Regions from separate parts of the Homo sapiens genome. Here all the other regions are linked to region 2. The links come from fine-mapping of genetic effects on gene expression. A gene starts in region 2. Each other region holds a variant in brackets. All regions are shown on one strand. Distances are between the middles of the regions. Region 1 has its middle 50 kb from the start of DPY19L2. Region 2 holds the start of DPY19L2 (dpy-19 like 2). Region 3 has its middle 130 kb from the start of DPY19L2.

What was found. PIP is the estimated chance that this variant, and not a neighbour inherited with it, causes the effect.
Region 1: its variant is the best candidate, but not a certain one, in a credible set for the expression of DPY19L2 in whole blood (TOPMed, PIP 0.84).
Region 3: its variant is the best candidate, but not a certain one, in a credible set for the expression of DPY19L2 in whole blood (TOPMed, PIP 0.86).

The regions. Positions count from the first base shown.
Region 1 is chr12:63,717,632-63,720,299 of GRCh38, reverse strand. It overlaps the pseudogene LOC100418730. Among named protein-coding and RNA genes, the nearest start is that of DPY19L2, 50 kb to the right of the region's middle. The variant T/C (reference allele first, on the strand shown) is at 1,227.
Region 2 is chr12:63,666,990-63,669,657 of GRCh38, reverse strand. It overlaps DPY19L2 (dpy-19 like 2), which reads left to right and starts at 1,165. Exons shown (of 22, transcript NM_173812.5): 1 at 1,165-1,601. The coding sequence starts at 1,265. RefSeq lists enhancers at 1-257, 258-759, 1,209-1,268.
Region 3 is chr12:63,536,196-63,538,863 of GRCh38, reverse strand. No RefSeq gene overlaps it. Among named protein-coding and RNA genes, the nearest start is that of DPY19L2, 130 kb to the left of the region's middle. The variant G/A (reference allele first, on the strand shown) is at 1,169.

The DNA of each region.
Region 1 (2,668 bases), 51 kb before region 2:
GCCTATAACATATAATAAATATATAGGAAATAAAGTAAATATATACTAGGTATAGTATTAGAATTTTTTCACATACAAAGAACAAAGAGGGAGGAGAAAAGAGAGGAAGATTTAAAAATTCACATTTAGGACCACTTTCATATATCTTAAGCTTTGGATATGACTGCTATTTTTATGTCTATTGAAATCCAAGTCAGAGTTTCCAAAACAATTTGTGAAAAACTTCCTCATTTATTGTGCCTTGTAGTTTCATTTATAAGTAATGAAAGTGGGACCTTTTATTTGCTATTTCTTTCTCTGGTTTTTGCAAGGGAATGATTGCATTTCTTTACATTATTGGATAAAAGCTAAATACATTACACTTTCAACAAACTATTTTATAATTTAAGATTGAAAGGTCATGCATTGTTTTTGAGCAGGCAGACCATTGCTGTAGAGTTGAAGTGTAGGTCAAGTTTCATTTTTAAATGCCTTTGGTCAGATATTTTCCTGCTAATTGGAGAAATGGTCTCTGAGGGCCAATTTTACCTTGTGGCTGGGAACCCTAGCTGGATTCAGAGTCCAGTGATATTATACAGAACAACCACTGCAAAAGGTCCCCTTCTCTTTTGCACAGCAGGTAGTGTCAAAATCTGCCCTCCACACATTTACTTAAAGATAATAGAGATGCCAAAAGAGTGAACATTTTGGTTAGGAATTGCATTATGTTCTATATTATTTAAATACATGAAAAAGCAGGGTTGTGTTTTGGACTGAATTAGTAACTTGGATATATGTAGACCCACACTAAACAGTAGCATTTCTTAAGCACATACTACTAACCTTGCTTAGTGTTTTCTCTTGATGAAGTGAGAAACATTGCTGCTTTTAAGAATTTGTGAGTTATAAAGAAGCCATATCTCTGGTTTCTGTACATACAATGTTTGGTAGCTGATTTATTTTTGAGACTTCTTTTAGGATTACTTTTGATAAACGTGATTTGTTCAACAACATTACAAGATGCAGGCATCCTCTATTCGGACATGAATGAAATGGTGTCCACCTGAAATCACTGTCTGTAACTCAGCTTCTTTTTCTCATCAGTTCTCAGTGTTTTTTTTTTTTTCAGTTATCCCAAATTTCATAAAGAGATGTAAAACTACACCTTAAAAATGAATTTCTGTATAGCTACTGGTCTTTATTTAAATATTGTGGCATAAACTCTATGTCTGACCTTTTAAAACGTA[T/C]GATTACCTAGAATGTTAAAATTTTGCTATTTAAAAATTATTTTATCTTAAAATTTAAAAAGTGAAATGCTTTTCCTGTAAATTCATGGTTTCACTTAGTTCATAATTGGTGAAAAGGTGAGATCATATTTCTGACTGTGCTTGTTCTTGAGGTAAAGCTCAACAAATACTTGTGGGGTTCTTAATTGTGGACACTCTAGTAGATTCAGAGTCTAGTGACAGTGGGCTACAAGGAACATGGTGGGCTCACAAAGAAGTTTAATCCACAATCTCTGTGCTGCTAATTATTAATACCCCATAAAAGCTGTTCAGGAATGTGTAGCATCAACCCAGAGCTCCCATACAATTTTAGTGATAATAGATCCATTCAGTTTTTTTTTGCTGTCACGTGCAAAAGCAATTATTTTCCCTAGAATTAGATTAAATAGAAATAGAGAAAGTAATTGTTTTGAATTCTTTTTCTAATTAGTGCACTAAAATTAAATCATTGCTGTAGCTAATTGGTAAATCTGGGTGTATAAGAGCACCTGTACTATTCTTGCAACTTTCCTGAAGTTTGAAATTATATCAAAATGTAAAGAAATTTCCACTGATACTCCTAGGAATTATGAAAGTTGGATTAAAATGATATTAGCAGTAGATAATTCTCATAATGAGAGAAAATTCGAAGACATCTGAAAACTCATGTTGAATTTAAGTTACTCCTTTGCTCAAAGTATGGCAGTATTATCAGATATGGTGACACATCAATTGAGCAACACGTGTTTTGAGAGTATGTATTTTCTGTGGTATTAGAGCACTGGAGAATTTAAGATAACTTCTCAATCATATTCTGAGCCAATAGTCTTTATCTTTTGAAAGAAGAACAAGAAATGTGATTTTCAAAATTCTTTTCAGAGATAAAATATGTCAAAAGTCCATCTTTAATCATTAGAACAGATAGGTAATACCTTCTACCCTTTTCATTTGTAAAGACTCAGAAAAAGCTTGATATGATTCATATCTTAGAGAGATGGCTGTAAAAAGTTCTTTCAAAATGAATTTTTTATCAGATATATTATCTGTTGTTGTCTGTAGAAAATTTTATCCATTGGCAAGCCTGTTTACTTTTCAATTTTATAAATGTGCTATTTAAAGGCAGCCTTACCTTTATTGCTCCACCTCACAGTTTCAGTTTGAAATTTTCATGTGGGTTTGATTTACCCTTAATGTCTCTGTTGGAGGTGGTGTCACCTTCTTTAGCATCATTTAGAGCCAGTTCCAGCTCTGATTAGCTGTGCATGTCATCCGACATCTAGCGCAGTGCATGGGCATGGTGATTTATCCTCATTATTTGCTGATGAATTATTGTGAAAGCATATTAATGAACTATAAAGTACTTCAGAAGTAGAACGTATTTTAAGTATAGTTGTTCGTTACAAAGAGACATAGCTCATGTCCTG
Region 2 (2,668 bases):
TAGATTGGTCAGTTAGGGTATGGGAGTTCAATGTGATCCATCATCAAACAGATGGGAAGTGAAGCGGTGTGGGCTCCAGCATGTGGCCCGTGACAGAGGACATGGAAAATGTCAGTGGCCCCAGTGCATCTGTGCCAGCCGCTTTGGCCTCTTGTAGGGCTGTGCGGTGACTGGGAGCTAAGCGCTCCCCTCTTAGTTGGTCCTGGCTGGTGCTGAAAGCGCTTGAGCACACCGCTCCTAGGGCTGATGACTTCTGAGGAACCTTATTGGAAAAGCATTTTGCTCTAAGATTCAGTAAACGCTGTCCCGTGCCAAGGAAGTGGCGTCAACCTGAGGCTCTGGGATCAGACCCACCGGACTCACGCCGGCTCTGCCACTTGTTGCCCGCAGTCTCGGCCCGTTCCCTCTGCGTTGGCAACGGGCACTGACTGTCCGATACCTCAGCGATCGTAGGGGAGTAGAGACGTTCCTAATGCCGGGCGCACCGCCGGCGGGCCGGCGGTTCCGTTGGCTTCCCTGACACACTTCCTACAGTCATTTCTTTCAGCTGAGATCTTTCCCTTTAATACCTCGTTAATTAACGTGTAATCTTTTGGTTAAAATGTCACAGCTAAGACTAAACCCGAAGAAAAGAATGAAACCACGGGAAGTTCTTCAGACAGTCGCCGCAAGGTTATGGGCCGAAGTGGTGCAGGGGCGGCGCCCGGGGAAGCGACTGGCAGAGCTGTGCGCACTGGGGGTGCTGCAGGCGCTGGGGAGAGTGTGGAGAGGCTGCGTGGAGCTGCGCGCTCGGGGTGGGGGCTGCACTCCCAATGAAGCGCGTGAAGGGCAAGCGGTGATGGGTTCTGCGCCAGTGGGGCTGGGAGCCCGTCCGGGGCTGTACATGGGGCTGCGCGCAAGGTGAGGACTGCGCATGTGGGCTTGGGGCCTGCGCGCACCGGAGGCTGCAGGCGCTGGGGAGGGTGTGGGGGGCTGTGCGTGGGGCTGCCCTCACCGGAAGCTGCACGCTCTGGGAAGCGCAGAGGCGGGGGTGCTGCTCGCGCTGGGGAGCACGTGAGGGGACACTCAGGGACTGCCCGCGCGAATGGCTTCCAACGCATGCGCCCCACCCCACATTTCACAGTCGCCATGACGACCGGGAGGTCCGCAACGGCTGCGGGGACAAGTCCGTTGAGGCTGCCAGGCGAGTCAGGTCTCTCTGGACCTCGCCTGACTCGGCTGGGCTGTGCCTGAAATTGACCCAGCTCCACCATACTCCTTGATTATGAGAAAACAAGGAGTAAGCTCAAAGCGGCTGCAATCTTCCGGCCGCAGCCAGTCTAAGGGGCGGCGCGGGGCCTCCCTCGCCCGGGAGCCGGAGGTAGAGGAGGAGATGGAAAAGTCGGCCCTAGGCGGCGGGAAACTGCCAAGGGGCTCCTGGAGGTCCTCCCCGGGGAGGATCCAAAGTCTGAAAGAGCGAAAAGGCTTGGAGCTAGAGGTGGTGGCCAAGACCTTTCTTCTCGGCCCCTTCCAGTTCGTCCGTAATTCCCTGGCGCAGCTCCGGGAAAAGGTGCAGGAACTGCAGGCGCGGCGGTTCTCCAGCAGAACCACTCTCGGCATCGGTGAGGAGAGGGCAGGAGAGCCCTAGGAGGGAGCCGCATGGCGCTTTTCTTGAGTCTTGAAGGAGATCAGTTTAACAAGCAAGGGTTTGTGGGTGCCTAGTAGGAAATAATAGCAAGGTCCGAGTAGAAAGAAGTTGGCCAAAGATCTTGTCATTGAACCAGGGGAGAGAGAGAGATAGGGAGTATATTGGTTTGAAGGGCTGTCAGATCGCAGAGAGTGTTTTAAGGTCTAGGAGTTTTAAAGGCTGAGGGGAAGGATCAAGAGAAGATGATGAGATTAAGATTCCAAGAGAGGAAATAATTAGTGGAGCAAGTCTTGCAATATTTGGGAGGGGTAGAATTAAAGGTACAAATTTGAGAAGCTAACTGTGGAAAAGAGGAGAGAGAATTCCTTTTCTGAGATGGCAGGGAGTAGAAAAGTGAGGATTACTATATGGAGAAATGTTAAAGTGGAAATAAAAGAAGTTGGGAGTGTTGGTGTCTAATGGTCTTTGTTTCAGTGAAGTATGAGGCTGGGTCACCTTCAGAGGTGAGATTGATAGGATGCCGTGGTCCAGGGGACATTCTTCTGTCACAGCTTGGAAAGGGCATGTGATAAGCCCTTCAAGCATTTAGAATACTGGCATCGTTACACCATATCATTTTTTTTCAGATGTGGTATGTGGGTTAAGGGAGGGAGTGAGAGACACAGAAAGATTTTGAGCATCTTTGGAAAGCTGGATGAATTTGGTAGTATATTTGACCTTTTCCTTATATATCATCTGAAGAGTTTTTGCCAGTGTATATAATTGTTGGGAGAATTAGAAATAGGATACAAATATAGTTGAACAGGATAGTCTCTGTATATTTTAAAATTAATGAAGCCTAATAAACAGTTAATGAGCATCTTTACAACCATTTAAAGTTTTCAACCTTTTAAAAATTATAGCAACCGTGCTTGCATACAGTCCAAAAATGCACCATGGGCCATACTTTGCCTATCCTGGTATAAAACAAGTAAATCTTCCGAGAAGTATTTAAGATAAGCCCAGGACAGTTAGTAATATAGGAAAAGATCTGGATAAGCA
Region 3 (2,668 bases), 130 kb after region 2:
ACTTGTCAAATTCCTTACATCACTGTGTGAACAGTTTTGTGATTCCTGGAAATACTGACTCGAATGTTTTTCTCATTGGCCCTTACAACTCATAACAAATCCAGGAAGCTTCTGAGAGACTCTCTTAATGGAAATCATCTTTTAAAATGAAGAAGCTTTATCGATTAAAATAAAACAGCAAGCTCCAAACATGTGGCTCTTAGTTTTAGGTTTTATCAATACTTGTATGGCTTAGGCAAGTTTATGCATATTACTCTGATGAAGAATTCATTTTCTAGTAACAGAGATGGAAGTTAGCAGCAGATTCTTTTTCTCTCCTTACATGAGTATGCCTTTCCTCAGAAATACCAACCCACAAGGTACAAATAAGGTTAGGAGTCATTAGTGCCTCAGCTTTCCTTTTTTGAGGTCCAGTGGAGAATGGAGATGGAAGTGCTAGCTAAAGAGAAGAGATGTACCACAGTTTATTCTCCAGGACGAATGGAGCATGGATGTTCTGTTCATGGACACTTGGGTTGTTTCCAGTTTTAGTTTTTATAAAGACGCCATGAACATTTTTTGCACAAAAAATAAATAAGGAGGAGAGATGGAGGCTACAGTTTTTTTTTACTCCAGGGAGAATTTAGCTCATGCTGGTGTGGAAGAGGAGGGTTGGGTCCTCTTGGCAGCCTGTGGGTCTCTGAAGGAAATTGGGACTTCCTAGTTGGTTTGGTGGAGTCACTTTCATCAGAGATGGAGAAGCATTGACTGACAGTAGAGGTGTGGACATGATGTGCACTGTGTTGTCTCAGGGTCAGCAGCAGTGTGGCCACCAGGCATTCCCTGGTATGGGGCCAGTCAGGGACTGTCCTTCCTGACTCTTATTCAGACTAGCCAGCAACTTGGGGACTAGTCTGCCCAGGCACAAGTCATCACCAGTTCTTTAACAATACACAGTGAAAGCCAATCTTGTTCTTATAATTCATAGAATAGATGCCTAAGTTAAAATAGCTACATTATTAAGTTGTTTTCAGCCAGCTTATCAACTGAGTGTTTGTGTGTGATGCCCAGGGAAATAAATTCTAAGTATAAACTGGCATTTGTTCCGGGGGACTAAGTCACGGGGACTCTTACGGGGTGGTTCCCAGAACTCCTACCAAAACACAGCTTTGCATTAATATGGTTGTGC[G/A]TTAATAAAGATATTTCACCTAACTTTGTATAAACTGCCTGAAAAAAATACTTTTTTTTCCTTCAGTGTTTCTGTTTTTTTCCTATCAGTGTTTTTCCTATTAGTGTATCAGTACATTCTGTTCTTTTAAAAAACTTCTTTTATACTTGAGAAATTTTTGCTACTCTTTATATAATTTTGTTCCTTACTTTTCTCCTCCATGTTATGTCATATACATCTTCCATATTGGCATAGTTAAAAAAATGTATTCAGATATCATTCACATACTATAAAATTCACCCTTTAAAGGAATATAATTCAGTGTTTTTCAGTATATTGAGGTTGTATAACCATTAACACTAATTCCAGAAGTTTCAGCCCCCCAAATAAACTTCATACCTGCTGGCAGTAACTACCCATTTCCCTCTTTCTCCAACTCCTGGAAACCACCAATCTATTTTCTCTCTATATAGATTTGTCTATTCTGGACATTTCATGTTAAGTGGAATCATATGATATGTAGCCTTTTATGTCTGGCTTCTTTTAGTTAGCACAGTGTTTTCAAGGTTCACCACTCTGTAGTATAAATCAGTACTTCATTTTTTTGGCTTAGTAGTATTCCATTGTATGGCTTAGTCTTTTTTAAACAATATTTTTAGTGAATACATAGTATTGGAAAGGTGGCTATACCATCAGTAATATTATTCTATAGAAATTTAAATTTTTCTGTTACAGATAATGCTGAGGAGAATTACTTGTGTGTTTTTTTTTCTCTCAGATTTAGAATTGTTTTCATAGACAGTGCCTTCTCTCTGTACCCTCACATGGTGGGAAGGAAGAATGAGTTACCTTGTGCCTATTTTCTAAGGGCACTAATTCCATTCATGAGGGCTCTTCCCTTATGACCTAATTACCTCCTGAAGGTATCACCTCCTAATACCAGTGCCTTGAGCAGTAGGATTTTAACACACAAATTTTGGGAGGATATAAATATTCAGCTTATAATGAGAGAGAAAGAGAGAAAAAGAGAGCAATATTAATAGAGGTTGAAAGAGATAGAGAGACCTTCAAAGACAGAGGTGGCCCAGCCAGCAGACATCTTGGAGGACAGTGGATTTGATTTGGGGCCTAAAAGAGAGTAAAATATGGATAGAAAGAATGCAGCAAGGAGGATATTCTTCAGAGAAAGGATTTACAAAAATAGATGTGGCTAGAGTAAATCTAGCATCCATGGCAAGTGAGAAGTGAAAGGTAGGACTATAGGGTAAAATTGCAGAAGGGTTAGTAGGCCAAGCTAAAGAGTATAAGCTTTATTCTAAATGTAATTGGAGGCCGGGCCCAGTGGCTCACACCTGTAATCCCAATGTTTGGGAAGCAGAGACAAAGAGAATTGCTTGAGGGCAGGAGTTCAAGACTAGCCTAGAAAACATATGAGACCCTGTCTCTACAAAAAATACTTAGTCAGCCATGGTGTTGGGCACCTCTATAGTCCCAGCTACATAGAAGGCTGAAGCAGAGGAA